Homo sapiens: one gene and its partners. The protein of the gene in region 4 purifies or fractionates together with the protein of the main gene of each other region. This does not show direct contact. Each region holds a gene or a part of one and is shown on either strand. Other genes may lie near its edges.

Region 1 (9,184 bases), on a different chromosome or scaffold from region 4:
CCGCTGTTTTTTCTTGGTAGATGAATGTCTTGGGCATAGGACTAATTTAGTTATACAGATTTTTCTTTTTAAATAATTTGGTTCCACTTTTCTCCCTTGAAATAGAACTGTCTGTTGAGGGGCTGTGCTTTTTTGTAGAGTGGTAGGAGAGGGTCAAAGGAGAACAGTTTCAACATCTGCCCCGTGCAGCACACGCGGGGCAGTCAGCAGCAAGGCGCTCAGCTCCTGCCCGTGGAGGCTTCGGTTGAAGGAATGCAGGAATGCCCTGCCTGTCAGACTCAGTGCGGCGGACAGGGGCAGGCGAGGCACTCAGCTCCTGCCCGTGGAGGCTTCGGTGGAAGGAATGCCCTGCACGTCAGACTCAGTGCAGCGACGCGGGGCAGGCGAGGCGCTCAGCTTCTGCCCGTGGAGGCTTCGGTGGAAGGAATGCCCTGCACATTGGACTCTGCAGCAGTGCGGGTGTGGGTAGCTTCTTGGGATGTCTTCTCCTGATACTTGATCAGATTGGAAATATCAAGGAACATCTGTTTAGACTTGAAAGTTCGTTTAGTTCCATTCCTTTAGCATATGTACTAAAGTGTTAAACACCTAAGATATTAGATATTGGTTATAGAGCAAGAATGAAAGTACTGGCGTCCTTGATTTTGAATTATGAAATATTTAATACTTAATAGAAAATTTCACTTAGGGCATACAGAAGATTCAGAGGTTAATATAGATGTACCTGCAAACCCACCACCCAGAGGTTATCCCTTCATCAAAGGAAGGAGAATGCTCGGGATACAGATGAAGCTCCTGTTGTCCCCTCCCCATTTCAGCCTGCTACTTTCCTCCTGGTCTTTTTCACTCTCCCTCTAGCTTCCCAGAGTTGCTCATGATTTTGAAGATGGCATATGTCTTCCCAAGCATGTTTCTCCACTTCTGTAACAGACTTGTTCTGTACGTACGTAAGCAGCACCTCACTCTGGGCACCTGTGCAGCCTGCTTCACTTGTGCAGCACTGTGCGGTTGTCTGTGCTGGCTCATTTATCTCAGCGGCTTCGTGGTGGTCCCTGCATGGCCCTGTGGCTTACTGTTGCCCTTCGCCTCTGGTTGGCATATGTGTGGCGTCTGGTTCACTACCACTGTGTTGGAGCTGCCACATCGCTGTGTCACGCTCCTCAGGCCCGTGCTGGCTCTCCTCTAGAGCAGACTCAGCAGACACTTTCTCTCCAGGGCCAGATTGCAAACATTTTTGCCTCTATAGCTCATGCGGCCTTTTCACAACCACTCACCTCTACCCAGATGGTGCAGAAGCAGCCAGAGACAGTATGTGCACACATGGGCCTGACTGTGTTCCACTAACACTTGCCTTAAATACGGCAGGCTGCATTCAGCAGACCTGCTCCAGAAAACACGGCAGGCTGCATTCGGCAGACCTGCTCCAGAAAACACGGCAGGCTGCATTCGGCAGACCTGCTCCAGAAAACACGGCAGGCTGCATTCGGCAGACCTGCTCCAGAAAACACGGCAGGCTGCATTCGGCAGACCTGCTCCAGAAAACACGGCAGGCTGCATTCGGCAGACCTGCTCCAGAAAACACGGCAGGCTGCATTCGGCAGACCTGCTCCAGAAAACACGGCAGGCTGCATTCGGCAGACCTGCTCCAGAAAACACGGCAGGCTGCATTCGGCAGACCTGCTCCAGAAAACACGGCAGGCTGCATTCGGCAGACCTGCTCCAGAAAACACGGCAGGCTGCATTCGGCAGACCTGCTCCAGAAAACACGGCAGGCTGCATTCGGCAGACCTGCTCCAGAAAACACGGCAGGCTGCATTCGGCAGACCTGCTCCAGAAAATACGGCAGGCTGTATTTGGCAGACCTGCTCCAGAGAACACGGCAGGCTGCGTTTGGCAGACCTGCTTCAGAAAATACGGCAGGCTGCATTCAGCAGACCTGCTCCAGAAAACACAGCAGGCTACATTCGACAGGCTGAATTCGGCAGACCTGCTCCAGAAAATACGGCAGGCTGCATTCGGCAGGCCTGCTTCAGAAAATACGGCAGGCTGCATTTGACAGACCTGCTCCAGAAAATACAGCAAGGCTGCATTCGGCAGACCTGCTCCAGATGCATACCTAGAAGTGGAGTCGAAGAGTCGGAAATCAAGTTCGTTCTTTTTTTTTTTTTTTTCCCTGAGTTTCATCTGAGATTTTTTTGAGCCAGGATTTTTTAGCTTTAAAAAATATGTATGGTCATTTGATATTCAAATTTATAGTACTGAAATTTTCTCTACACTGTGCTTTGTTCATTAAAACAGCTCTCATGTTTCCTTGCAGAATAAAAGCCGCCCTCATTCTAGGGGAGAATATAATGTTTACAGCACCTTTCAAAGTCATGAACCGGAGTTTGACTATTTGAAAAGTCTAGAAATTGAGGAAAAAATTAATAAAATTAGGTGGTTACCACAACAGAATGCTGCTCATTTTCTACTGTCTACAAATGGTAAGAATTGTGTTCTAAGTGGCTGTTTGATTTAGTTTTTTATTTTTAATTTTCTGTGTGTGTGTAGATTCCTTTTTATTTTAGAAGTTATTCCTGCTTTAAATTTTGGGGGGAGGGTAAGTTATCTAGGGTAGCAAGTGATAGGTTGAAAATTCAAAGTATGCAACAAAAACCACACGTGCACTTTATTATGCTGTTACTCTGCACGTCTGCACATCTTTCTTTATTGTACAAAACACCTCCAATTGGAAATATTCATGTTCAGAGACCCCATAGCTTATAACCCAATATAGGACCACACCGCTTTCTAATACCAGTACTCAAACAGTAGTGATGCATGTTATAGTTTTTCTTTTCATATGGAGAATGAGGTTTTTATTTTCAGATAAAACTATAAAATTATGGAAAATAAGTGAACGGGATAAAAGAGCAGAAGGTTATAACCTGAAAGACGAAGATGGAAGACTTCGAGACCCATTTAGGATCACGGCGCTACGGGTACACGTTGCCTTTGCTTTATCCAATGCTGTTGAGAAGTTAAGAATAAACGTTTCAGTCTGCTGTCTGGAGAGTGCTGCGCGGTGGAGTACTGTGAGGTCTGCTGTGAGGTCTGCCTCGTGATTCCTGAAAGTCGTTTGCACTCATGTGTGTGTTTAAAAGCAAGGTCTTTCTCCTGTTTTCACAAAGGCAGAAAGTCACATGTGGTCCTTAGGAAACACAGCAATACTAAGGGGAAAACTCATATTTAATTCTACAGCAGAAATCTTTGTGGACATAGCAACCACCCTTCTCTCAGAAGGTTCAGAACAGCACCTGGGAGGTTGGAGTTCAGATGAAATTCAGAACACCTCACAGGTGCAGTAGCACAGGTTGCAGGTCGAAAGATGAGCTGTGGGCCACAGGTACATTCAGGACGCTTCTCGGGGAATTTCTTTGGGGTTGGTTTAGGCAGATGCTGATGGTTCAGAACTCTCCACCTGTCCATCCATGAGCATCATTACTTTTTTAATTGTTAAATTATTTGCTCCATTGTTGGTAGTATGAAATGATCATATTTCATCAATTCTGATGCCTAAATTTTTTCATATTTTAACATTTATGAAACCGGCTAAAACTCAAAACCTCAATGTCTTATAATTGGCCTGGTGCTACGCACCACTGATGTTGTCTTAAATTAGATGGAACATGGTGAAGGGTGTCCGGCAAACTGGGCTCGAGCCCAGGTGTGTCTTGGTGAGAAACCAGCACCTGTGCAGAGGTGTGTCCCCTGGAAGGAAACTCTGCCTGGTCCCAAGGGGGTGCCGTTACTAGATTGGAAAACCGTTGGTTGTTTGGGTGGTTGGGTGGTTTGGTTGCGGGGGGTGGGTGGTTGAGTTGGGTGGTTTGGTTGGTTTTTAATGAGATTTCAGCCCCTTTTACACTATTGTTTATCAAGTGAAGACTGAGTGAGTGAGCCCATTCCACATTAGTCTTGGAGAGTGCTACAGAGGACGCTGTACCGCAGAAGCCTTTCCCTAACACATGTGCCTCTGGGAGTGATGTTGGGTCTGTTCTGATGCCATTTCTCCAGCTTTGCCGTGTGGGGTGGCTACACCTGGGGTTGTGCATTCCTCAGGAGGAGTGTCCTCAGACTTCTCACATCGATGTTGTCACCGTATTTCCTATGAGTTCATCAAAGCGAGAAAGGCTGTGGCATTTGCTGAAAATCTAGTTTATAGGGTCCTAATTTGAACCAAGATGTTTTGATCCAAAATGTTGGTGATGTCTGATACACAGTGCTGCCGCCTTTGCACCCCTGAATTAGTGTAAATCACTTTTAGTGACAGTAACACGAGTTGTGCAGTTCCATCATCATGAAACTGCTGATCCTAAAGTAGAAGTGTGATGGGACCCCCGAGGGTGGGCACTTGACCCCCTCCAGCCTTGTCCATCTCTTCTGCAGCCAACACCACCTCCCACCCAGTTACCTGTGCACACCCCACCCTCAGAAACCCCTGTTCCTCCTGATCAGACCCTGCCACAACCCATCAGCTCACGTGCTCATTTTGGGAGAACAGTAGGCCTTTACTAGGCCCAGTCTTGGTTTTATTCAAGGCTGCTTTTGTAGGTTTAGCCTAAATAAAACGGGTATAATTGGTGGCCCTACTGAAGGTGTGTGAGAAGTCTAGTTATTTCATTAGTTGGTGCATGGGGAAGAGACCACAGACAGGTAATTCTGTACATTGACTTAGGTCGGTATTTGAGATCTTACCTCTCTAACAGTTCAGAGTGGGCTATTTATGTATCTGAGCCTAACTGGGTAAGAGTCAGACATGTTGCTGTTTTTAAATTTTTGCTCTTAAATTATTTTAGTGCCAGAAAAGGGATATAATTAAAAGAAGAAATCTTGGCCAGGTATGGTGGCTCATACCTGTAATCCCAGCACTTTGGGAGACCGAGATGGGAGGATCACTTGAGCCCAGGAGTTCAAAGACCAGCCTGGGCAACATAGCCAGACCCCATCTCTAAAAATGAAAGCAAATTATTTTATATGCAAATTAAAATGTTTTCAATAAAAGAAGGAATCTTTGTAAGTATTGCAGCTATCATATGTTTTGATTAATGGGAAATTTGTTAGAGGATTGGGGTAGGTGTGTGTTTTTAAGCCTGAACTTGGTAGAACTGACTCTTCTTGCTCTAGAGAATCCAAGGGTGTGGTCAGCACTACCTGGGTTAAAATGAGGGAAGCCTCCCTACACACACTTTTCCAAGTTGGTTTTTTACAGAATTCAGCCAGACAAGACTCAGTTGAGAGCTTTTCTTTTTCCCCTAAGCTTTCAAGGCTCTCCCTTTTGGTTTCTAATTACAAGAATAACAAAAAATACTATCATTAATTTTTTGTTTTGATTTTAAAGCTTATGTTTTTCTTCCAGCTGGATGTTAGTGAGACACAGGCCTTTTTCCTTTTTTCATGTGTGATGCTATTCCTCACGCCTGAGCTCTCACCTCTGACCATAGGCGGCCTGCAGCCAGCGCCCACTCCTCTCTGTCCTTTCTATTTCTGTGCGAATTGGGCTTCCCTAGGAAGCCTCCCTGACCACAGCACTCAACACAGAGATGGGGGCGGGAGGTACCTTCTACTTTTTGTTTTAACCTCAAGTGAAGTGTAATATATAATACATACCTCCAGATAAGACATCTGCCCTATAAGTGACCAGCTCCATGAATGTTTGTAGGGTGCACATGCCCATGTAGCCAGCCCCAGACCAAGAAATGGAATATCCTCAGCTCCCCAGCACCCTGCTGTGCACCCTGCCAGTACCTGGAGCCAGTGGAGGTTTGTGGGGTTTGCACCGAGAAGCATAGTCCTAGTGCAGTGAGAAGAGGTGTGTGCATCTAGCTGCAAGGAGAGGACAAAGGGAGGGGTGCAGCTGAGCCACCCAGGAGGACTTTGCTGTCCAGCGCCTCAGTGTGGCCACTGGAGGACACACAGGAGAGGGAGCCGCAGGCCTCGGTGCCTGGGCAGTTTGTTACCCTGCCAGCTGATCTTCTCTTCAGCAGGAACATGTCGACCTCGGTAATGGAAGCAAGGGGAAGACTTGGAATAGACAGTATTCCATTTTGTAGCATATTTTCATAACTCTGCTAATTGGTTATTTGGGGGTATTGCCTGTACAGAATTATTACTTAGCCATGAATATAAACTTGTCCTCTTTCGTTATCTACTATAAGTGTTCTAATTATGTGCTGCTGTGATCTTTGTTTTGAATTCCTATTTCCTTCCATTTTTAGGTCCCAATATTGAAGCCCATGGATCTTATGGTAGAAGCGAGTCCACGGCGAATTTTTGCAAATGCTCACACATATCATATAAATTCCATTTCAGTAAATAGTGATCATGAAACATATCTTTCTGCAGATGACCTGAGAATTAATTTATGGCACTTAGAAATCACAGATAGAAGCTTTAGTATCCTTCCTCAGAGGGACACTGGCGTCTTCCCGAGGGTGCTCTTTAGATAGTAATTTCTCTCGTCCCTTTATACACCTGTATCTCGGAGTCTAGTCTTGTAAATACCATCACTGCACAGCAGCCTGTGATGTAAGTTCTCTGTGATTTGAAATGTTTGTCCCTAAAAATACAAATTTCTTTCTACCTTTGGGAAAAAGTTATCTGTATAATGGGAATTACCTGAAGTCCACTGCCTGCCTGGTTTAATCAGAGGCAGTTTTAAATAGGCTACATTTGAAAAACCAACATTATGTGTTCTTTTTTTTTTTCTAAATTTGCTAATGAATAATAGAAAATACTGGCTTAGGTTAGAGCAGTGTTTAATCACCCATCTGAGCAGCAGCTTCCAGTTAGAACCTGTGTTCTTCTGTGGCTGTGCACAGTCTGGGTGGCCCCAGCCCTCCTCACATGGGCCCCTTTCCAGCCAGCAGCCGGGAGCATGGGGCTTGCTTCGTCTGCAGCCTCTCCAGGGTCCCTGCCGTCCTCCCTCTGCTGTCCAGTGGCTTGAGCTGGGGTTCCATGTCGTATGTTGGTTTTCTTAGTTGTTTCAGCTTGAAGGGTGAAACTGGGACTGCTAGTCTGAATTGGCCCACAGCTGAATTCTGCCCTTTCTTATTTTTTTCAGTTGAAGGATTTCTGTATAGGATTTCTGTTGGATCTGTTCTAGCTACACAGAATAAGCTCTTCATGTCAGGAAGAGCAGCATCTTTTGGAATTTGGCGGCATTCTTGTGTTGTAGTTTTGTGTGGGAGTGTGGGATTTTGCACAGATGGTACTAGCTTGGTTTTCCTATTTATATGATTAAGTATGTACTATCTTGCTATTAAGGGCTTTCTGTATAACATTAATAATAGCAGCAAGATGAAAGCGGTGTTCGCTTGTCTGTGTCTCCCCCTGGGCCGGGGCGTTGCTGTAGTCTGAGTGTGCTCATCCCAATCCCCTTACCAGGCGCTCCTTTGGAATTCGGGATGTGTAACCAGCCTTCTTAATAGCTAATCCCTTAAACCTCACTGCGTGGATTATTTGGCGTCCTATTTCGCGTGACTGAATGTAGACTAATTAACAACCAGCTGAGCTGAGCACTGTGCCTTAACCATGCACTCCCAGACATCGTGGACATCAAGCCTGCTAACATGGAGGAGCTGACCGAAGTCATCACTGCAGCCGAGTTCCACCCGCACCAGTGCAACGTGTTCGTCTACAGCAGTAGCAAAGGGACCATCCGCCTGTGTGACATGCGCTCCTCGGCCCTGTGCGACAGACACTCCAAGTGTAAGTGCGTCTGTTGTTGAGATGGAGTCTGGCTCTGTCACCCAGGCTGCGGTGCAGTGACACAGTCTCGGCTCACGGCAAGCTCCGCCTCCCGGGTTCCAGCAAGTCTTCTGCCTCGGCCTCCCGAGTAGCTGGGACCACAGGCAGGTGCCACCATGCCCAGCTAGTTTTTGTATTTTTAGTACAGACAGGGTTTCACCATGTTGACCAGACTGGTCTGACCTCAGGTGATCCCCCTACCTCGGCCTCCCAAAGTGCTGGGATTACAGGTGTGAGTCACCGCACCTGGTCACGCCTGGCGTCTTTTAAAGCATCTCATTTAGAGCCACTTGTTCTTCAGACACTCCAAAGACTTAGAGAGTTCTTCCTGTTCCCCAAGTGCCTTTGCACAACTGGGGAGCCCTCCTTTGCTGGGGCCGTCCGAGTGTGGCTGTGTCAGAGGCTGCTGCTAATAAGTGGAACTCGAGGTCATGCTTCCCACAGGCTTATGGCTGTAGGGTGAGTGTGCTTTTGGCACCACCGAGAAGCGGGGTCACTTCTGCCCAGAGCCTGGGTGTCTCCTCAGAGGCTGCCAGCACTGAGTCCCGCCAAGAGCCACCCGTTGCCTCTGCCTCTGTGCGTGAGACCTGGGCTGAGGCCGCCAGCACACAGGAGGCCATTCCCAGCTGTTGGAATGAGCTCCTGTTCATGTTGAGCTTGGCTGGATTGGAAGCCACTTCCCTTAGCTGAAAGTCTAGCATTTTAATCCAGTGAGCTTTCAAGCTCCTTTTAGGTGAGGGAGGTTCTGGTTTTGTTTTTATTTTTAGCCATAAAGAATGGGCTTGACTTTATAGAGCACTGTAGTCAGCGTGTCCCAGTGTCCTGAAACATTGCTGACCCTTCCTCCAGTGCCAGCAGGTAGACACACGTCCAGTGACTTCCTCTGATGGGGAAGCCGCCAGTCAATCCCACCAGACTGAGCCGCTGCTCATGTGCAGCGGCGCCCCCAGTGCCTCGGTGGAATGTGCCCATGGACCGTGTGCAGCAGCCTTTTCGCCTGTTCTCTTTCCTGAGGTTGAGTGTGTTTTTAAGAATTCGTATTTCTACTAGAATTCCTGCGATGAGGATGAGTGTTTCGTAGCATTTGGCCTGTATCTTAAGCATAAAATTCTTGAGTAAATAATTTCAGATTCCAGTTCTATTTGTCATCAGAGTGATTTATTTGAGTAAATGCTTGGCGTCGGCACAGCTGGCTTCAAGTTAATTTCAGATGCTAAGCCGACAAACACAGGCTCCTGCATCAAGAAAAAAGAGAAAAAACCTAAAGCAGCTTCAGGTCAAGGAAGCACAAGCCAGGTGCAGTGGTGCTCACCTGTGGTCCCAGCTACCCTGGAGGTTGAGGCGGGAGGATCTTTCTGAAAATAGGAATCCAGTTTTGTCACAGTAGAGCTTGTGTATA
Region 2 (9,184 bases), on a different chromosome or scaffold from region 4:
GTAAACTATTTGGTATCTTAACAATGGGCATCATCATTAGGAAAATGCACATTAAAACCCCAGGTATCACCACACACTGATTAGAATGGCTAAAATAAAAATTAGTGGCAACACCAAACGCTGGTGAGGATTCAGAGAAACTGAAGTTTCCTACACTGCAGGTGAGAATATAAAAATGGTATCTGAAGAAGTATGGCAGTTCCTTTTATTAATACAACTAAAAATGAATGTGCCATATAACTCAGCAGTTGCACTCTTAAACATGTATCTCAAAGAAATGAAAACATGCAAGCAGCTTTACTTGTAAAAGCTAAAAAACTGAAAACTATCCAAATGTCCTTTAACAGGCAAATGATTGAACTATCATACAGCCACACCATGGAACACTTTAAGCAATAAAAAGAAACAGGACTACTGATACATGAAACAATTTGTATAAGCCTTAAGGAAACTGTGCTAAGTGGAAGGAAAAAAAATAGTCTCAAAAAGATGCATACTACATGATTACATTTATATAACACTCTGAAGTAACAATTATACAAATGGAGATAAATTAGTGGTTGCCAGGGGTCAGGCATGGAGAGGGACGGGGTAGATGTGGCTATAAAAGAATAACTCGATGAAGCTTTATGGTGATAGTTCAGATATGTATCTTGATTAATGATGGTTACACAAAGCTAGACATGATAATAGTGCATATAGCTCTTCCCCACTTCCCCCAATAACAGTGCTAGTATAACGTGAAATGTGAATAAGCTCTGTGGATTGTACCAATGTCAATTCCCTGATTTTCACAGTTATTAGAGATGTCTGCTAGTCACGCAAGGTGTTAACAATGAAGCAGGCTCAGTGAAAGTTGCACAGAACCTCTCTGTACATTTATTTGCAACTTCCTATGAATCTATAATTATTTCAAAACAAAAAGCTGAAAGAAGGGCATAAGCTAACATGCTTCAAAAATTGAGAAACAGTATATTCACTACACCAAATAAAGGCTGTAAAGGTGAGATACCTCTCCTACCTCAGTATAAAATTAAGGCTTTGGCTGGGCATTGTGGCTCATGCCTCCTGCACTTTGGGAGACTGAGGCGGGAGTATATCTTGAACTCGGGAGTTCAAGATCAGCCTGGGTAACATGGCAAAACCCCATCTCTACCAAAAAATACAAAAATTAGCCAGGCGTAGTGGCACACCTGTAGTCTGAGCTACTTTGGGGGGCAAAGGTGGGAGGATCGCATAAGCTGGGGTATGAGGCCACAATGAGCCAAGATTGTACCACTGCACTCCAGCATGGGCAACAGAGTGAGACTCTGTCTCAGAAAATAAAAAATAAAAATAAAATAAAGGCTTTATTAGTATTCCCTTACAAGACACTTAAATTTTTTTCCTTAAAAATGTTTCAAATTATAATACTAACCAGTAAAATAGTATTACCATAAAATGGAACGAGGGAACTATTATAATGTAACATATTGAAAGGCTGCCAGAGGCAGCTCATGCCTATTATCCCAGCACTTTGGAAGGCAGAGGCAGGTGGCTATCTCTTGAGCCCGGGAGTTCGAGACCAGCCTGGGCAACATGGTAAAACCCCATCTCTACAAGAAATACAAAAATTAGCTGGGCGTGGTGGCACGTACTTGTAGCCCCCAGATACTCAGGAGGCCGAGGTGGGATGATCGCTTGAGCCCAGGAGGCGGAGACTGCAGTAAGCCAAGATTGCACCACTGCACTCCAACCTGGGCAAGAGAGCAAGACCCTGTTCCAAGGGAGGAAAATCAAAGGGTACCAGAGGGAGCACACAGTAATTCTCAGATTATGAAAGCATAATACAATCCTTTATTCATTTAATGAGTAATCTGACTCCACAATAGGAAACTTCTGTAATATCTAAATTATTCACTTAAATATTAAGTTTAGTAAGCTTTCCCAATTGAATCACAAATTCCTCCTAGAGACGATGTTACCTCTTTTATAACAGCCACTGTGTGTGTGTATGTGTGTGTATGTAAGAGTAATTAAACTCAAGGTAGGAATGCACAACAGGGGGAGATTTGAGACTAGACAACAAAACTTCAGAGAAAAAGGTAGAATTTGAAAATTAGCTATAACCATTTTTTTAATAAAGTAGTTTTTAATTACAATCAAAGGGATTTACACTAGGAAAAGAATAATAATATACTCATAATGTCCATTTTTGACATTATTTGTATATATGTACCTGGAAATATTTACATAATGAACATTAAGAGTAGACCTGGAAATATTCACATAATGAACATTAAGAGTAGACCATGGGAATATTATTATAACTAAAGTTTTCCAAAATCTGAAAATATTCTAAAAAATATACTGGATATAAGATACAATATCTGGCACACTGTACAACTCCAATGCTATTATTGTTATAAAGGCAAAGAAATGAAAAATAAGCAAACAACGATAATCCCTTCAAGTCTATTTTTTTTTAAAGTGCTTAAAAAAGCCCCCAAAAAACCCAAAACAAAACAAAAAAACCCAAAACCAAAACCCATACCTTCTTGGGAAGAGGTTCTTCGTTGGTCATCTTGAATCCTAAAAAAAAAAGTTGCGGAAAACAAGTTCAATTTATTTTCTTCCAGTGAAAGTAGGAATAAAAAATACTGACTCTTTCAAATCAATTTATTAGTGAACTAAATTACTGTTGAATAATTAGAATTTAAATAAACAATTTTAAAATAGTTTTAGATTTACAAAAAAGTGGCAAAGATATTACAGAGTTCCTATATACTCTGTACCCAGATCTTCCTTTGTTAACATCTTCCATCATTAGAGTTATTGGGTAGTTTTTACAAATTCCCTCGTAAAAAAGCTGATCAGCCATTCAAATCATTTGATGTCGCCATAAAGGGTGAAGAGAAATATAATGACCTCAAGTAGTATCCTACGCATGTTGCTAAGGGACTATAAAAGGGTAATACCAGTTTAAGTCTTTCCTTTTATAGCATTATGTTGTTAAAGTAAGGTAGTACCTACCACAGCCATAATTTACTACTGCCCAATAGTTTTTTAGATATATTATATATTTTATTTTTATTTTTTTTGAGACACAGTCTCACTCTGTCGCCCAGGATGGAGTGCAGTGGCGCGATCTCAGGTCACTGCAACCTCCGCCTCCAGGGTTCAAGCAATTCTCCTGCCTCAGCCCCCTAAATAGCTGGGACTACAGGTGCGTGCCACCACACCTGGCTCATTTTTGTATTTTTAGTAGAGACGGGGTTTCACCGTGTTGGTCAGGCTGGTCTCGAACTCCTGACATTGCAACCCGTCCGCCTTGGCCTCCCAAAGTGCTGGGATTACAGGAATGAACCACCACGCCCATCCTATTACATATTTTAAAATATATGTTACACTGGTTGGGCGTGATGGCTCACGACTGTAATCTCAGCATTTTGGGAGGCTGGTGGGTGGATCACTTGAGGTCAGAAGTTCAAGACAAGTCTGGCCAACATGGTGAAACTCGGTCTCTACCAAAAAATTAAAAAAATTAGCCCGGCGTAGTGGCACACGCCTGTAATCCCAGCTACTAGGGAGACTGAGGCAGGAATCGCCTGAACCTGGGAGGCGGAGGTTGCAGTGAGCCGAGATGGCGCGCCACTGCATTCCAGCCTGGGCAACAGAGACTCCATCTCAAACAAACAAACAACAAAAACTCACATACACATGTATGTCACACCTTAATAAAAATATTCCTACAGTATTTAATTTTATGCCAAATATTTTGTATCTCAAAATTAGCTTCTTTATTATACAAAATTCACTTAACCCTGTTTCAAAGATAGGTTAATGAATTCAAGTAGGGAACACTTTATTATGCTGTTTTTTAGAACGAATGCTAATAGCAGGTATTATTCATTAAACTACAAATCCACACACAAAAAAAAGACAAAGAAAAAATGTGTAATAAACATAAACACCACATTAAAATACAAGGTTGGAAAAAAAAGTATACGACATGAAGAGCTAACCTGACAAACATAAAATCTTTATATAAAAATTCTATGAGGATTAAAAAATTGAATCAGGGTTCTGAGTACCAGTGCTCTTTTGAAAAAGCATCTAAATTGCATTTGGCATATTCATAACTTATACAAATTAAGTAATTAGTTCTTATACTAATTTAGTTTTTCCTATTCTTTCTTTCTTAAGAGATGGGGACCCACCATAGTGCCCAGGCTAGTCTTGAACTCTTGGGCTCAAGTCATACTCTCATCTCAGCCTCCCAAGTAGCTAGAACTACCTGTGGAAGGATCACGCCCAGCCCTAGTTATTATTTCTAATAGTATACTCATGAATCTTCCCTTACTTTAAAGTGTTTATGGTTTATTTTAATTACCCATACTTATTATAAATTCTAAACTACTAGAAATTTGACCAAAAGCTTGGTATGTTAAACTGAATTTTTTTTTTTTTTTTTGAGATGGAGTCTCACTCTGTTGCCAGGCTGGAGTGCTGTGGCATCATCTCGAAAGCTACTTGAGGCTGGTGTGGTGGCTCACACTTGTAATCCCAGCACTTTGGGAGGCTGAGGCAGGAGAGCTGCTTGAGCCTAGGAGTTTGAACCGAGCCCGGGCAATGTGGTAAGACCCTGTCTCTCATTAAAACAAACAAACAAAACACACACACACCAAGACTACTTGATTTCTCCCACTTGATTTTGAGATTCCTCAAAAGGAGATAATCTTCCAACAGCATGTTTTATACTACGTACAATCTCAACTCCACTTTATAAATGAAACATTCTAATCATACTGTTATTAAACCCTGGTTTTCAGATTAAGTAAATTGTGTTGAAGAAAGCAGAATTTAGAGGAAAAATCATAAATTGATCTTAGATTACTGGCTTGCTTCTTTCTCTGTTTAATCTTTTTTTTTGGAGATGGAGTTTCGCTCTTGTTGCCCGGGGTGGAGTGCAACGGCGCGATCTCGGCTCACCGCAACCTCCGCCTCCTGGGTTCAAGCAATTCTCCTGCCTCAGCCTCCCAAGTAGCTGGGATTACAGGCATGCGCCACCACGCCCGGCTAACTTCCTTGTATTTTTAGTAGAGACGGGGTTTCTCCATGTTGGTCAGGGTGGTCTGGAAATCCCGACCTCAGGTGATCTGCCCACCTCAGCCTCCCAAGTGCTGGGACTACAGGCATGAGCCAGCGTGCTGGGCTTTTTTTTTTTTTTGAGACAGTCTCGCTCTGTCACCTAGACCACAGTGCAGTGGTGCGATGATGGCTCACTGCAATCTTGACCTCCCAGGCTCAAGTGATCCTCCCACCTCAGCCTCCCGAGTACCTGGGACTACAGGCATGTGCCACCACACCCAGTTAATTTTTTGTAATTTTTTTTGGTAGAGACAGGGTTTCGCCATGCTGCCCAGGCTGGTCTCGAACTCCTGGGCGCAAGCAATCCAACTGCCTTGGCCTCCCAAAGTGCTGGCATTACAGGCGTGAGCCACTGCACCCTGCCTTCCCTCTTTAATCTTTCTCAAGGGATACAGCAAACAGATAAAAACCTCAGTATTTGTTTCTGAGCTAATTGTATACAGTCTGTTTCACTGAGCAAGTCACTCTGTCCTATGAAGACATAAACCATATTACTATGATATAAAATGTATATTATTCTTTTTTTCTTTAAATTGGTTCCTCCCTTGTTGCCCAGTTTATTATCTCTGCTGCCATTACAGAAAGCTGCTTTGTAACTACCTTAACCTGGTGGCAGTCATTTTAATCATCTCAGAAACCATCACCATATTTAACTCCACATGTCTAACTACTTCTATTTTAGCATGACACATGCATTAGGCTGCAAAGTCTTAGAACCCAGATATCAAATCTGGCATTTCCTTGTAATTTCCCATTTGTCTGGAGCTAAATATCAATTTTACACACACACACACACACACACACACACACACTATATATATATACAGAGAGAGAGAGAGAGAGAGAGAAAGAAGCAGACAGAGACACTCCCCCTCCCCCTGCGCCCGGTCTCTGTTGCCCAGGCTGGAGTGCAATGGCGCGATCTCGGCTCACTGCAACCTCCACCGCCTGGATTCAAGCGATTCTCCTGCCTCAGCCTCCAGAGTAGCTGAGATTACAGGTGCCTGCCACCACGCCCGGCTAATTTTTGTATTTTTAGTTTCACCATGTTGACCAGGCTGGTCTCGAACTCCTCACCTCAGGTAATCCACCTGCTTTGGCCTCCCAAAGTGTTGGGATTACAGGTGTAAGCTACTGCGCCCGGCCAATAATATTTTTAATTTAAAAAATCTTAAAGACAATTTTAGCTATTTGAGCTGTACATATTTAACCGGTATATCAGTATCTGTATCTATGTATATACGAACATAAAATTTTGAGAACCAACCAGGAACTTCACGTAACAGGTACTGTGGTAGAGATCTGTGAATGACAGTTTGAAAACAGCTATATTTATCACTATGGCTAGGTGGTATACCTTTTATCTAGTTACTAAGGCATCCTACCTACTCAGTATGTACAACTTTAGTTGTAATACTAAAGTATCATGGATGCTGTTCAATATAAATTCCAGCTTATAAAAGTTATTATAGTTGGTCCTTGACCAACCCAGGTTTTAGCTGCATGGGTCCATTTATATTTGGATTTTTTTCAATCAAACTCAGATTAAAAAATACAGTACTCGGATCAAAAATACAGCATTCACGGGATGCGAAACCTGAGTATGCAAAGGGCAGACTTTTCATACACCAGGGTTCAAATTCCTATGCCAGGATTTTGGCAAGGATCATCGGTATGTGGTTCTACAACCTGATACTTTCCCTAGGTTTACTTGCTTACTCTCTTCTTAAAGACAGGTATCCATATTCTTATTCCACTAAAATAAAATTAACAGTAAGCTTAGCAAAAAATGAGATGATAATCTGTTTTTAAAGGGCATTAAAAGGACTGAGAAACACATGAAGAAAGTTCTGATAACCTTGGTATTCTGAAACAGGTTGTCAACTTTGCAAATACAAAAGTAGCAAAATCTCTGCACCTCAGTTTCCCCATCTCAAAAAGAATTACCACAACCAGGGCCCAAATACTGTGCTATTTCTGAAGACAGACATTAATCTTTAGCATGGTAACTGGCACAAAATGGGCATTTAATTAATAGTTTCTTCTCCCCATCAAAAACACAGACTCAGTGTTTCTTGAAAAACCTGAAGAGATAATCCACAGGTTGAGGATAATAATCATACTGTCCTCCCGACTGTTTCTAACACTTACTGCAGAATTCTTTGGCATCTCCAATATTTAGGATTCTAAACAGAAGTTACTTAAATTTTCTTTTTTTCCTCTCTTTTTTTGAGACAGAGTCTCACTCTGTCGCCCAGGCTGGAGTGCAGTGACTCGATCACAGCTCACTGCAGCCTCCATCTCTTGGGCTCAACTGATCCTCTTGCCTCAGCCTCCTTTGTAGCTGGGATCACAGGCATGAACCACCACGCCCAGCTAATTTGTTTTTTTTTTCTTGGTAGTAGAGATGAGGTCTTGCTATGTTGCCCAGGCTGGTCTTGAACTCCTGGGCTCAGGAATCCTCCTGCTTGGGCCTCCAAAAGTGCTGGGACTACAGTTGTGAGCCACCATGCCCAGCCTGCAATTATTGAAATTTCTTTTCTTTTTTTCTTTTTTTTGAGACGTAGTCTCTCTCTGTTGCCCAGGCTGGAGTGCACGGGCATGATCTGGGCTCACTGCAACCTCCGCCTCCCGGGTTCAAGCGATTCTACTGCCTCAGCCTCCCAAGGAGCTGGAACTACAGGCACGCACCACCATGCCCAGCTAATTTTTGTATTTCTTTTTTTTTTCTAGTAGAGACAGCGTTTCACTATGTTGGCCAGGCTGGTCTCCAACTCCTGACATTGGCTTATGTTCTTTTTAAAAAGTTTGATGGTGAGTAGATTTTAATTAAATGGTGCTTTTTATTGAAATTTTCTTTAAAAATAAAACTCTGTATTTGTAATGTAAGTCAGGAGTAAATACAGATTTTGGATAAATGTCTACACTTCCTAAGTCAACTCTCAGAGTCACTTTTAAGATCACTCTAGCTGTCTGGGGTATCCAACTTGGGAAATTCAGAGCCTCAGTATTTAGAAAGAAAATCCTTCCTCAACTTTAATCTGATGAAAAGTAAATCTTTCCTTGAAAGTCGATGATATGCCACAAAGTTAAATGCGCCATCTGGCAAAAGGCAAATTAGAACAGGTTCAAAATTTACAACTGTCTACAACATTCAACTATTTGGTCAAAATAGAACCTAATTGGCAATTTTGACTTTCACACCACACGAATGTACCGAGAAGTTTGGTATTCCCCAGGGCAATTTTTTTTTTAGCGCAAATGACAAACACAATAACCTAAATTTAAAGTCAATTCTAGATTCATAAAGGCAATGAATATTCTAGGTTCTCAGAACAATCTATTCTCGTATCAGAAAAACAGAATGACCATAACATCATTTGGAGTCAATTAAAGTTGAATCCTGAAGGAAAATAATAAAGAAAATATGTTCAGTTCTTATGAATCACACATTTAATAACAGCACTTTTCAAAGTCAAAGTTAGTTCCCATTTTCCAGGATGAAAATGACTGTTAGTCATTAGGTGATCAGCTATTAGGTGATTAAAACAGCTATTAATTAATAAATTGGGGGTAAGGGTCTCAAATTTGGTGCCCCTCAAAAGGGTGGTAACATGATTGACTAGTTTTAAAATTACATAAAAGTTTCAGTTATTTATGTAGATAATTCAGAGATAATATATCTCAGAAAATCAGGACCACCATCTACTCTTGATGCCTTAACACAGAAAAACAGCTTAGTATGGAGTTCAGTCTAGACTGGTTAGGTGCCTAGCATCCCAGATCCCAGTACCTTCCTGGCTCTTAGCATCATAAAGTTAGGTAACTCAGTTCCCTCTGAACGGAGGCAAGCGCCAGCCAAAACAACTTCAGTAAGAAGACACGGTACCTTGGCGAACAAATCATAGCTGAATGTAAGACACCAATCTGCAGACACTGTAGTAGCAAGGTACTGATGAGGAACTGAAAGGCCATCTTTTCCTTATCCTCTATCTGCCATGTGTGATTCCAAGCAAGTCTTTTAACTCTTGCAGTTTCCAAGTCAGCAAAAAGA
Region 3 (6,144 bases), on a different chromosome or scaffold from region 4:
ACAGGGAGCTAGATGAAATGGCTTAATGGTGCTGTTAAGTATTTGTACCTAACAGTCTTGTGTGACAGATGAAAATAGGATGTAACATAATGAAACACACCTGTCTAGGGGCGGCAATCAACAGTCTTACACAGAGAGGGTATTCCCTGCAAGTTTCTGGCTTGCCTGTGATGGGTGATGAGGCTTTTAGAGAGGTGTTATACAGGGCGATTTTTGGTGCCTTACTTTTATCTTAATTTTTGCCAATGTGAAAATTAAGGATAAATCAGAGTTACAGCAGGGATTTAACAAACAGGACAAAAAAAAAAAAAAAAAAAAAACCACAGGGTGGATCAATATGGTTTGGAAACTGTTAACTTTGAACTATTGTGTTCAGCTTTTGATTCGACATCTCTATTCTTTATTTTTGATGCCCAATTGCTTTTGGATTCGCCGTTTTTTCAATAGGGATGGAGGAAATGAGAGAGAGAGCTGTTAGAAAGCAGCACGGGCTGCTCGAGCTTTTCTATGGCAACTGTGTGTTGCTGGGGTTGGGGTTTTCTGGGTTTTGGGTTGTTTTGTTTTGTTTTCTTGTCCAATGAAGTTCACGAACCAGTGGCATGCATTATACTTTTCTCTGTTTTGCATCATTTCACTTGTTTAGATTATAAAAGCATGTGGGTTTTTATATATGAACTTTGCTGTTGATTAAGAAGCACAATGTTAATAAATGATGTGGTGATCAATAAGGTTTATCTTAAAGAATGTAAAGACTTTAGGTTTTTGAAAGTTATTTTGGAGAAATGGGACTTAATCTATAATAGTTACTATGTATTTGGTCTACATTTTCCAAATAATATCTTTAACTTGTACATTTGAAAAGTGTTCAGAGTGGCCCTCCTACCATCCTTCCTTCCACTCCAGCCAACTCTTCCTGCTAAACTGTATTCCAGTTTCCAAGTTTACTAATTGACTTGGGCCTGTTCAAATAATACTTCACAGAAACCAAATGCCAAACGGAGGAAATAAGTAAGCCCTCCCAGTTTCTCCAAGATAAAGCTTTTTTTATTATTGCTATTAATATTAAATATAGGTCTCATTCATACAGTGTATGAGTAGGATCATTTGGACAATTGTCCACAAAGACCAATTTTTAAAACATTTTCTTGTGTTATAGTTAAATAGTCTAGTAATGTTTTGTCCTTTATTTTCAATATTTGATAAACATTTGATGTTCAAAACTTAGCTAATAGATGCTTGTATATGAATGTGTTGTAATAAAGTGAGGTTTTCTTGATATATATTTATTAAGATGATAAAAATTCATTAAGTTTTTTAAATTTTAATGGCTATTGGCTATGTTTCTCTTTTCCATTATTCTCTCTCCTTTAAAAAACTCAAAACATCTAGAAACTGTAGTGGATAGTGGCCACACAGGAGTTTTCTAAATTAAAGAGTATTTTAAAATGCCAATCTGACAGGTGTTTCAGAATGATCCTAGTTCGTAAGTTTAAGTTTCTATTGATTAAGAAGCACAATGTTAATAGATGATGTGGTGATCAATAAGGTTATGTCTGAAAGAATGTAAAGATTTTCCTTTCTGGAGTGTCTCTGAAAAAAATTGTATAACACGAAGCCATAAATACTGAATCTTAGCTGATTGCATTATGAACTGTCAAACTGTGAAGATGACCCATATGTAAACAGTTATAACAGCTACAGATTATTGCTAGTAGCATTCCATACAATTCCATATTAATGTTCTTAGGAGCTAATATTTGATAAAGGGGAAAGCTAGTTAAAAACTAATTAATTTGTCAAATGTAGCATTCTTATTATGAGTGTAATATCTCATGGAGATTTAAATATGAACGAAAGGACTTATCCTTCTGCTTTTTAAAAGCCCCAGCATTACTAGATAGTGTTTTTCTTGAAGGCCAAAGCTGTAAAATGACAAAGTTGGTGATTTTCAGCAGCACTCACCTGAGCTGTGAGCGCCTGCACCTGTTCGGTAGAACCCACTAGAATCACTTCTCTGTAGGATAAGTGATGCCTTTGAATCCAGCAGCATAAAAATCTGTTCTTTTTAGTCATCAAGTTTTTGTTTCCAGGATATTTCTAGCATTGCAAAAAAAAATTTCTTCACCAAACACTAATTCCTAAACACCCATCCAAACCACAAAAATTCTCTTGTTAGTAGGCGAGAGTGCTAGGACTTCCTGTGTTCACCTCCCATGCACCCAGCATTGTCTTTTATGCATGAGATATTCCATTAGATTTTCCTAGAGTGGCCAGGACACCCTTCATAGTAAGTTATATCTCTTAACTGGATTCTATAGTTTTATCTCGAGCAACTTGGAAAAGCTAAGACATCCTCCACCCACACTGGTATCTACGCGCCTGGAAGCTGCACCTTCTCTCATTGCTGTGCTCTGCTTTAAGGAAAACCTGATATGACAGAATCAAGACTATTAAAAGATAAATGAGGGGAAATCTTCATTTAAGAAAGTTGCCTTGCTCCCCAAGAGTGCCTTTAATTGCTATTCCCCTAGGCATCTGGGTGCATATCATTAATGAAATCATTAACCTTTGTCTCTGGTCCTTCCTTTCTAAAAACAGCAGATTATAGAAGGTGGTCTGGCAAAGGGATTTTCAAAGGGCAAAAGTCTCATCATCATCTTTCCACTCAAAATCCTATTATTCTACATTTCACTTTGCAGGGGTCCTAGGGACAGGATTGCAGGGACAGGGGACATGGGAGGAAGACAGAAAAATTCAAAACCAGCAGATGCCACTACCTGGCAATGAATTGAAAATTAGGGGAAAGCATCTTTGGCGTGACCTTTTATTAAGACAACAGAAATTTAGAACATTTTACATGCTTCTTTGTTAAATGGTGAAGCAAGGGAATGAAAGTATTTATTTTTAGAGCTCATAGTTAACTCCATCAAGACATGGCTACCCACCCCTCCAGTTATGAACTTGTATTACAGCTCCACTTGGTGACTTCCTTTCTGTGTATCAGGAGCAGAGCAGAGGACAACTTGTAGAAGACATGACCATTAAGAGACATCAACTTCGCAACAAATATAAGACAAGGATACAAGGATTCCTATGTGATGCAGCTAGGTTTTTATATCCTTCTAACAAATGGTGAGCAGGAGACTTTTTTGGAAATAATTAGTTGTGAAATTCCATTTTTCTGACAGCCCCTTAAATTTGAAGTTATTTCATTTGTAGTTAAGGTTATCACATCCCTGCCAATTTTACTAGATTTTTTCAGAGACAAGCATTCAGCATGGCATTAGTAATGATGGTTTAAACTAGGTGCAGAACTGTCCCATGAAGAGAAGAATGATATCAGTATTTAAATAATAAAAGAAGAGACAATGTATGGTTTATAGTGATTCATTTTAAGATTGCTGTATTTTGATTTTGTGGTTTAAAATAAATGCATTAAGGATCTTTTAAGTTACTACAAGATGCCTCTCTGTTGCTTTCTTAGCTATAGTGCCTAAGCAAGGTATATTATCTTGACATGGCTAAAATGTCTCAATTCTATGTGATATAGCTACACGACCTGGGGTGAAAGAGTTACTAGTTTGGAGATTATTTCCCAGCCTTGGGTACCTGCCATATTTGAGCTGGGAGAACTCACTTAGGAAAAGCACTTGCAAAGATGTAAGTTATGAACACTTGAATCTCGCATCCTGCCATAAAGTGCATCAGCAAGTGACTTTAATAAAACATGCTGTTTAAAATAGTCTGTAATTTCCTGTTTCTGCATTTCCCTTCAGTATCTGTGACAGGCTGAAGAACGATGACTAAACGAAGGGAATTTACACAAGCTAGTCTGGTGGTGTTTGCAAACCATCGCCATGAGCTTCATCTTCTTTGGTAAACAATCCGCTGGTGGGCTGTCTATGGTTGGTTTCTTTTCTTTGTTGTTGATCCAATTTGTTAACTTTGAAAATGCAAACTACTTATTCACAGTGTGGAAACACCTGCTTTTGACCACAATGAAACTGATAGAATGTATGGCGATGTATTAGTTGTTTCTCATGAAATTTCTTATATTTCTCAACCCCATTTCTATGACTCTTCTCTTGATTTAAAAATATGAAAATCGAATAAAATCTTGTGGGGAGGACCTACATATAAAAGAACTTGCAGAGATGTAAGTTATGATCTTGCTTTGTGCCAAGATCTCCAAGACAATAGGCAAATATCAGAACTTTGGGGGAAAGGGATCTAACGTACCCTAGTCTTGTGCTGTGCAGACCAGCCTGGCCTTCGGCAGGCATTACCTCTATCCAGATCTTTCCATGGAAGCAGCTGAGTCCAGGCATCAGGCATATGATTCTCCACTGCCTCCTCTGGTCAGCACACACATGAACCCATCTTTGATACTTCTAGACGCAGTGCTTTTTCTTCAGATACCCTCTAAAGTGACTGCAATGAACTAAGCTCTCAGATGTGGTAAGACCCTGGTATCCTCTCAGCCAAGAGATGAGTAGATGTCTCTGAAATACACTTGGCACAGCACTCAGATATCTATACCATCTTCAAAACTCACAACATCCCTGTGTGCACAATAAGCAAAAGATAGAGAATGACAGGCTATGCAAGGGATTTGCGCAAAAGGTTGGGGAGTTGATCTCTGGTCCAGTACACTGAAGGAAATCTGAGAAATACAGTGCTCCCTGTACACTGCAGAGTGAATCCACTCTCTTTAAGGAAAAGTCTAAAGACTGCAAGGGAAAGAAGACAGAATTTTTTGTTTCTTTGTCAAACCTCTTTAGGAAAACAGAAAAAAACATTTCAGGGACTAAAGGATTGTTTTAAATGTTTTTGCAGGAAGAGAGAAATGGCTTGTCTGCCCTTTCTGGAGCTGGGAGGGGTTCTCCTTGTTCTCCATGTCCTTAGATGCTGTGCTTTTCAATAAACCCACCAAACTGTATTTGTGAACAGTTATGGTCATTAGCCCAAGGAATCTCTCTCCTGTTCAGTTTAGGCACAGAGGTTGTGGGTTTCTCACAAGACTGGAGTATAGAAGAGGGTTAAGAGTAGGGGGTTTGGAGTTAGACTGCCTGGATGAAAATCTCAGCTCTGCCAGGGTAGCTGTGCAAGCTTGGCCTTGGCCAACAAGCCACTTTACCTCCTAGTGCCTCAGTTTACTCATCTGTAAAATGGAGCAGCACACATTATCCACCTCATCAGGTTGTCAGGATTAAAGGTTTTAATATCAGGGAAGTGACTCAACATTGCCTGGGTGTACATTATGGGTTTGCAGTGAACAAGCCTCCATGACTTCTCCATTACTGTCCTTGAATGCCCGGCAAGTGGAACCCAACCGTGCCAGATCCTCCTTTTGGTGGAAAGTATTCAGCCTCTTTGGTTCTGTACAGCAAGCTTGAAGTTAAACAGGGGGATGGTATGAAACCTGGGGTCCCAGGGCCCTTAGCTATGAAAGTCGTCATTGGTGACCTTGAGATATGTTTAGTATTTAAAATACCAAATCATAAAATCTTCTGAAAGTGGTTGCACAGGCTAACCCCACATCAGATTTCCTTACCTTTGGCTGGAATTAAATCAGCTCCAGGCTGTCACAAACTGAGAAGAAACTCTGACTGGGAAAACGAAGGCATTATCCTTAATAAATACAATTTGTTTGTCAGACAGAATCTTTCAGAACATTGGCTATGTGAAGGGAATAAGAGGTGTCCCTTACAAATGGAAAGATTAAAAACCACTAACCTCTGACTCATCTCTAGGATTTGCCAAAGTTCAAGTTTATTTAGTTGTTGTATCAAATAATTTTCTTAAACCTAGCTTTTACTCAGAAAAAGTACAGTATTAAGTTAGGAAAAAAAGGGGGGGCAGGCGCGGCAGCTCATGCCTGCTGGTAATCCCAGCACTTTGGGAGGCCAAGGCGGATGGATCACTTGAGGTTAAGAGTTCAAGACCAGCCTGGTCAACATGGTGAAACCCCGTGTCTACTAAAAATACAAAAGTTAGCCGGGCCTGTGTGGTGGGGGGCGCCTTTAATCCCAGCTACTCGGGAGGCCAAGGTAGGAGAATTGCTTGAACCTCAGAGGCAGAGGTTGCAGTGAGCCTAGATGGATCCACTGCATACAGCCTGGATGAGGAAGTGAGACTCTGTCT
Region 4 (6,332 bases):
TTTGGGAGGAGAGGTGAGGTCTCCTTCAAACAGGGCAATTTGCCTTCCTTTTTGGAACCCGAGATGGACTTTTTATTTCCTTGCAGAACTGAAGGCATCTGGCTTGGGAGCACGATTATTCTCCACTCACCTTTAAACTGCCTCAGCTATTACTAAGTCTCTGGCAGTGATATGTTGATTATGTGAATTTAAAGCCCACAGGAGCCAGAGGAATGACAGATCAGTTTCTCTTAAATGAGAAATAAAATCCAGGAGCCTGGCAGCGGGACATACGGCTCTCACTCCTGCTGACCTTTGATGTCACTCGGGTAGAATGACTGCTTCTAGGCCAGATGGCATGTAGCTTAAACGGAGATGTCTCAACCTGTTTCCTTGTATTAATTGTGCACATTGATACTCCTCCATTGTGTAGTCCATAATTCTTCATCGTCAACCTCATTTGGATTTTTTTTTGAGGGGAAGCTGAGCTCAAGCAGGCCTCCACGAATTCAAGCTATTTCAAAAGCTCCAAACCCAAACCTTTTTCTATCCAATCACTGTTATAGGCTGACAGACACTGAATCTCCCTTCTGTCAATTGAATGTAAGTCTAGCAACTTTTAAGAGCAATGAGATTGAAGGAAAGGGCCTTCTTTCACCTCTTTGCCCTAAAGGAGGTGGCTGAATGGAAGCCCATTTAATTTTTTGTTTAAAGGTACTAAATAAGGATCAATTTGTAAAGACGGCTCTCTGAGTGTAGCAAGATAGTTTCTTAAATCTGATAGGGATAAATGGGAGGTCAATATCCTTTTTCTTATCAACAATTTCACCAAATAATATTTACTAAGAACTTTCACATCGGGTTTCTCAGCTATAAACAAGCAAACACTCCAAGCAGAGATATTGGAAGTGCTGAACCAGGACAGTTGCTGGGTATGGAGCTAGAAGCTAACATCGCTTGTCTATGGAAAAGCATGCTTTCATTACTCAAAAGCTGAACTTTTAATTTATTTCTAAATCAATTTGAAGCAGACCCAATGAGCGAGAAATGCAAATGTAGTCAACTGGGAAAAGAAGCTGACTTTTTTCACTCAGGGTCATGGGTAAGGATAGAATTCTGCCACGTGAAAAATGTCTCAGTTTTGACAAAAAAAAATTAACACTGCTTCAAGGAAAGAGAAAATAAGTTATGGACGTTATATCTGACAGATTTTTCCCTTTGTATTCATGGCATTTGAATTATATGCACATCACTAAAAAAATATTGAACCCTCATAAAGAGCCTGGCAAGTGAGTAACTGTAATTTTAAAACAGGAACATTCGCATATGTTTTAAAGCTGTTTTAGTTTTTGCTCAGAATTCTGGTTCACTATTTATAATAGGGCAGAACATCCATGCTTTTGTAAGAACCACTTTGGCTTATAGAAAATACAGTACCGGCCAGGCATGCTAGCTCACGTCTGTAATCCCAGCACTTTGGGAGGCCGAGGCTGGCAGATCGCCTGAGGTCGGGAGTTCGAGACCAGCCTGACCAACCAACAAGGAGAAACTCTGTCTCTACTAAAAATACAAAATTAGCCGGGAGTGGTGGCACATGCCCGTAATCCCAGCTAATCGGGAGGCTGAGGCAGAAGAATCGCTTGAACCCGGGAAGTGGAGGTTGCGGTGAGCTGAGATCGCGCCATTGCACTCCAGCCTGGGCAACAAGAGCAAAACTTCATCTCCAAAAAAAAAAAAAAAAAATACAGTACCGCTTTAAAAGTTTCTAAGCCAACAGAAATTCAAATGATCTAAAACTTAAATCAACATATAATGGTTTGAGAGAAAAACATGCATTGGCCTTAGTGTTTAGGTAGGTTAGGTATGTTTGGAGACTCCATGAGAGGAGCCCATAAGGAATTTGTTTGCACGAGGGATGAAGTTGCTTCCTGTGAATGAACGAACCCTAAGACAGAGTAGCATTGATGGGATATTGAGAAGGTCAAGAACTAGGGGACAGTATCAGAGGCAAGGGGCACTGTTCATTTAAATTTAAACTAGCCACCATGAGCTTATAACCCGAGTCCTTGGTAGAGGAGCAATAACTAAGAGCAAGCGAAGGAATGATTTCAGAATAATCTCTTTAAGACACTGGGGAGAATAAACCTGAAATGTTTTGTAGGCCATGTAATAGAGTGAAATGAAAGGGAGCACAGAAGTCCATTTACCTTCTTGGACTCAGTGGCCCCTTCAGTGAGTATTGTGTCTTTGCTGGGGCAATTGTGACTTTGCATATTGATGGACACTGGTGCCTTTGGTGGTTATTGGGGCATTGTTGCGTTTTCACCATTAGTGAAGTCAAGAGTCAACAACTTGGCCAGGCGCGGTGGCTCACGCCTGTAATCTCACCACTTTGGAAGGCCGAGGTGGGTGGATCACCTGAAGTCAGGAGTTTGAGACCAGCCCGGCCAACGTGGTGAAACCCCGTCTCTACTAAAAATACAAAAATTAGCCAGGTGTGGTGGCACATGCCTATAGTCCCATCTACTTGGAAGGAAAAAAAAAAAAAAAAAAAAAAAAAAAAGAGTCAACAACCCAACAAGCCAGAGCCAGGGAAAAGGAAAATGATCACTGCTATGTGGTAACTGAGTACTGAAACCAACATAATTCTCTGTCGCTGTGTAAAACAATAACAGACGTGGGAATAGTTTTCTGTTCCCATATTAATCCATGTTGAGAATAAGCAAACTTAGCTACTTGCTCCAGGAAATACTTTTTCCTGAAAATTAAAATTGTAAACCAACTAAAAGAGTTTACTTAACAAGAATACCACCTTCCCCATCAAAACTTGCTTCAATATTCTCCTCCTGCTATGCCCACCAATCTACAGCTATTACGTCACAAAATCTACCCAATCCCAATTAGAGGCCTGCCTTGCAAGACCCGCCCTGAAACCACCCAACTTAGTCCCTAATAACCTATCCTGTCATTTCCCCTCTGAGACACTGCCTAGACACCATTAAGGCAGAGTTCTCTCATACTGCAGTAAGTCTCATAAGATACTTCACTTTGATGGATCAGTGATGTTTTTCTAGTATTTTAGGGGAGGGCACGGAGTAGGGGTTGACAGCCAACGAAGCTAAAAGGGTGAATGTCTGCACATTCAGGAGAATAGAGGTGCCACAATTATGGGTGGAGTGGAGGCAGAAAAATATGGTGTGTTGCTGTTTTTACGATCCAGTTTGTACTTAGAGGCAAGGTAAGATGTGAGGAAATGTGGGCTAAATACCCATAACCCTTTTTAAAATTAAGCAAGAACAGCAAATGTCTAAAAAATGTCTAGCCCAGTGAAGTTACCATCTATTCACTCCTGTTTTTTTTTTTTTTTTTTTTTTTTTTTTTTTTTTTTTTTTGAGACAGAGTCTCACTCTGTCGCCCAGGCTGGAGTGCAGTGACGCGATCTCAGCTCACTGCAACCTCTGCCTCCCACGCTCAAGCGATTCTCCTGCCTCCTGAGTAGCTGAGATTACAGGCGCGTGCCACCATGCCTAGCTAATTCTTGTATTTTTAGTGGAGATGGGTTTTCACCATGTTGGCCAGGCTGGTCTGGAACTCCTGGCCTCAAACGATCTGCCTGCCTCGGCCTTCCAAAGTGCTGGGATTACAGGAGTGAGCCAAGGCGCCTGACACTATTCACTGCCTTTTACATGATTTTTCCTTGACGAGATAAATGTAATGCTCCCTTCTTCCAGACAAAGGTGATTTTAAACTTACTGTATCGTGAAATCACAAAATCTTAAAAGGTATGTGTATTTTGTGTGTATGTATATATACATGCACACACACAGACATATCATCCTATCTTATTCCAATGAGTGATTTAAGGTAGTTCACAAAAATGCAATAGGATAAAAATAAGTCAGTCCTAGAAGGCAAAGCTCTGCAGGGCCTGCTGGGAATTTATTCCCCACGCCCATCAGTTTCTGTTTCCATGAAGACCCCTTTCTCTTTGAGTACTGAAGAGCAGCATCAGCAACCTCAACACTGAAGCTTTTTCTTTCTCTGCCCAAATTCCCTCACTAGAGTGGTGGGACAGGGTAGGTGAGGAGAGAAGGAAGCCCTTAAACGTCAAAGCAGTGGAGGGTTGGGGAGGCATCGGATCGCACTTTCGCCTCCTAGGCTGGGGAAGATGGTGCACATGCGTTGTAATGCGCACGTGTTACTGGCACATGACTCCCGGTCCCTTGTGAGCCGAAACTTGGATCCTAATGACGTTGATAATGGGTTACTAGGCACTCATAGTTCTGGATCGTTGGGTGGCCTTCACGTTAGCAGAAGAATTCCTTTAAACGTCATTTTTGAGGAAGTAGACAAACCTAAATATGTGTCTGAACTCCAAGGAATATGAACAAGATGCCTGCTGGTGAACAAGAATGTGAATATAACAAAGAAGGGAAGTACTACTCTAAAGGAGTTAAACTGGTGAGAAAAAAGAAAAAAATTCCTGGTTACCGTTGGGGGGACATTAAGATAAACATCATAGGTGAAAAGGATGATTTACCAATTCATTTCTGTGACAAATGTGATTTGCCTATTAAAATCTATGGGCGAATAATTCCGTGCAAGCATGCTTTTTGCTATCACTGTGCTAATTTATATGACAAAGTCGGATATAAAGTATGTCCGCGCTGTCGTTATCCTGTGCTGAGAATTGAGGCGCATAAACGAGGTTCTGTCTTCATGTGTAGTATTGTTCAGCAGTGCAAGAGAACATACTTGTCTCAGAAAAGCTTACAGGCTCATATCAAACGCCGCCATAAGAGAGCTCGAAAACAAGTTACCAGCGCTTCGCTTGAAAAAGTTCGTCCTCATATTGCTCCGCCACAAACTGAAATCTCTGACATCCCTAAAAGACTGCAAGACAGGGACCATCTAAGCTATATTCCACCAGAACAGCACACCATGGTGTCACTACCGTCTGTGCAACATATGCTACAAGAGCAACATAATCAGCCACATAAGGATATCCAGGCTCCTCCCCCAGAACTATCTCTAAGTCTGCCTTTTCCCATCCAGTGGGAAACCGTTAGTATTTTTACGAGAAAACATGGCAATTTAACAGTTGATCATATTCAGAATAACTCAGATTCTGGTGCTAAGAAGCCAACACCTCCCGACTATTATCCTGAGTGTCAAAGTCAACCAGCGGTATCGTCCCCTCATCATATTATACCTCAGAAACAGCATTATGCGCCACCTCCATCTCCATCATCACCAGTAAACCATCAAATGCCATATCCTCCTCAGGATGTAGTTACTCCTAACTCGGTTCGTAGCCAAGTGCCAGCTCTAACCACGACCTACGATCCATCATCTGGATATATTATTGTAAAGGTGCCACCTGATATGAATTCTCCTCCACTACGTGCTCCCCAGTCTCAAAATGGTAATCCATCTGCAAGTGAATTTGCTTCTCACCATTATAACCTTAACATTTTACCTCAGTTCACCGAAAATCAAGAAACCTTGAGCCCTCAGTTTACACAAACAGATGCAATGGATCATAGAAGGTGGCCTGCATGGAAACGACTGTCACCTTGTCCACCAACGCGGAGTCCACCTCCTTCAACCCTACATGGTCGATCACATCATTCACACCAGAGAAGACATAGACGGTATTAAGGATGATAACAGTATTTGGAACTGAAGACCTGATGGGAAAAAAACCTTCAAGTTCTATACTGTACTGTGGATAAGCGGCTCAGTTCAGCAGAGCTGGAGTTGAACAACTTTGTTCCTCTGGTGTGGTAAATTGACCTAAAGGTGACCTCTGACGATTTCCTGAAATAAATATGCAATGTTACATTTTCAAAAGTATTGTGGTTTTTATTTTTTTATTTTTTGGTGATATGTTAACCTGTGTAAAAGGGTTAAATTTCAATACAGCTGTAAAAATGCTATTTTATGTGAACTCAAGCATAGTCACATGCTGTTTCTTAAACATATTTTACCACTGATTTCCCAAAGTACAATACAAATCCTAGAGGTAAAAATCTACTACAATGTACAGTTAAAGCAGACAGCTAAATGGTAGATAATTATTTCACATTTTAGGAACTGAAATTTTAAGGTACAATAAGTGTATAGTGCATTTCGTTTGGATGCCTTTTCATTTTTAGGCAGCCGCAGAAGCACCAAAATATATCAGAATTCCAGTACTATGATAGATTTAAGTTTGCAATGTTAAAAAGCATTACTAAATCATTTGGAAAGATATGGCCAAAGTAATTGTATCTGTAGGCTCCAAGCTAGTGGGGACAATGTTACTTGTTAATGCTTTTTTTTTTTTTTTTACAGAATCGTTCAAATCACAT

Evidence for each region.
Region 1: the proteins of CBLL2 (region 4) and PPP2R2D purify together in Homo sapiens (affinity purification with mass spectrometry; 3 studies listed by BioGRID and IntAct, with this or other methods). This does not show direct contact.
Region 2: the proteins of CBLL2 (region 4) and WTAP purify together in Homo sapiens (affinity purification with mass spectrometry; 3 studies listed by BioGRID and IntAct, with this or other methods). This does not show direct contact.
Region 3: the proteins of CBLL2 (region 4) and SERTAD4 purify together in Homo sapiens (affinity purification with mass spectrometry; 3 studies listed by BioGRID and IntAct, with this or other methods). This does not show direct contact.

The regions. Positions count from the first base shown.
Region 1 is NC_000010.11:131,937,714-131,946,897, forward strand, and holds part of PPP2R2D (serine/threonine-protein phosphatase 2A 55 kDa regulatory subunit B delta isoform), read left to right. Parts: exon of another isoform or gene 1-260; coding exon of another isoform or gene 261-461; intron 462-483; exon of another isoform or gene 484-939; intron 940-2,317; coding exon 2,318-2,483; intron 2,484-2,868; coding exon 2,869-2,981; intron 2,982-3,054; exon of another isoform or gene 3,055-3,079; intron 3,080-6,254; coding exon 6,255-6,432; intron 6,433-7,581; coding exon 7,582-7,746; intron 7,747-9,184. UniProt on the Homo sapiens protein: Substrate-recognition subunit of protein phosphatase 2A (PP2A) that plays a key role in cell cycle by controlling mitosis entry and exit. Involved in chromosome clustering during late mitosis by mediating dephosphorylation of MKI67.
Region 2 is NC_000006.12:159,729,645-159,738,828, reverse strand, and holds part of WTAP (pre-mRNA-splicing regulator WTAP), read right to left. Parts: intron 7,945-9,184; exon of another isoform or gene 7,864-7,944; intron 6,433-7,863; exon of another isoform or gene 6,398-6,432; intron 2,572-6,397; coding exon of another isoform or gene 2,564-2,571; coding exon 2,534-2,563; intron 1-2,533. UniProt on the Homo sapiens protein: Associated component of the WMM complex, a complex that mediates N6-methyladenosine (m6A) methylation of RNAs, a modification that plays a role in the efficiency of mRNA splicing and RNA processing.
Region 3 is NC_000001.11:210,242,796-210,248,939, forward strand, and holds the end of SERTAD4 (SERTA domain-containing protein 4), read left to right. Parts: 3' UTR 1-3,004; coding exon of another isoform or gene 3,005-3,132; 3' UTR 3,133-3,460; downstream 3,461-6,144.
Region 4 is NC_000023.11:22,268,630-22,274,961, forward strand, and holds CBLL2 (E3 ubiquitin-protein ligase CBLL2), read left to right. Parts: upstream 1-4,283; 5' UTR 4,284-4,362; coding exon 4,363-5,640; 3' UTR 5,641-5,832; downstream 5,833-6,332. UniProt on the Homo sapiens protein: E3 ubiquitin ligase catalyzing the covalent attachment of ubiquitin moieties onto substrate proteins. May operate on tyrosine-phosphorylated SRC substrates.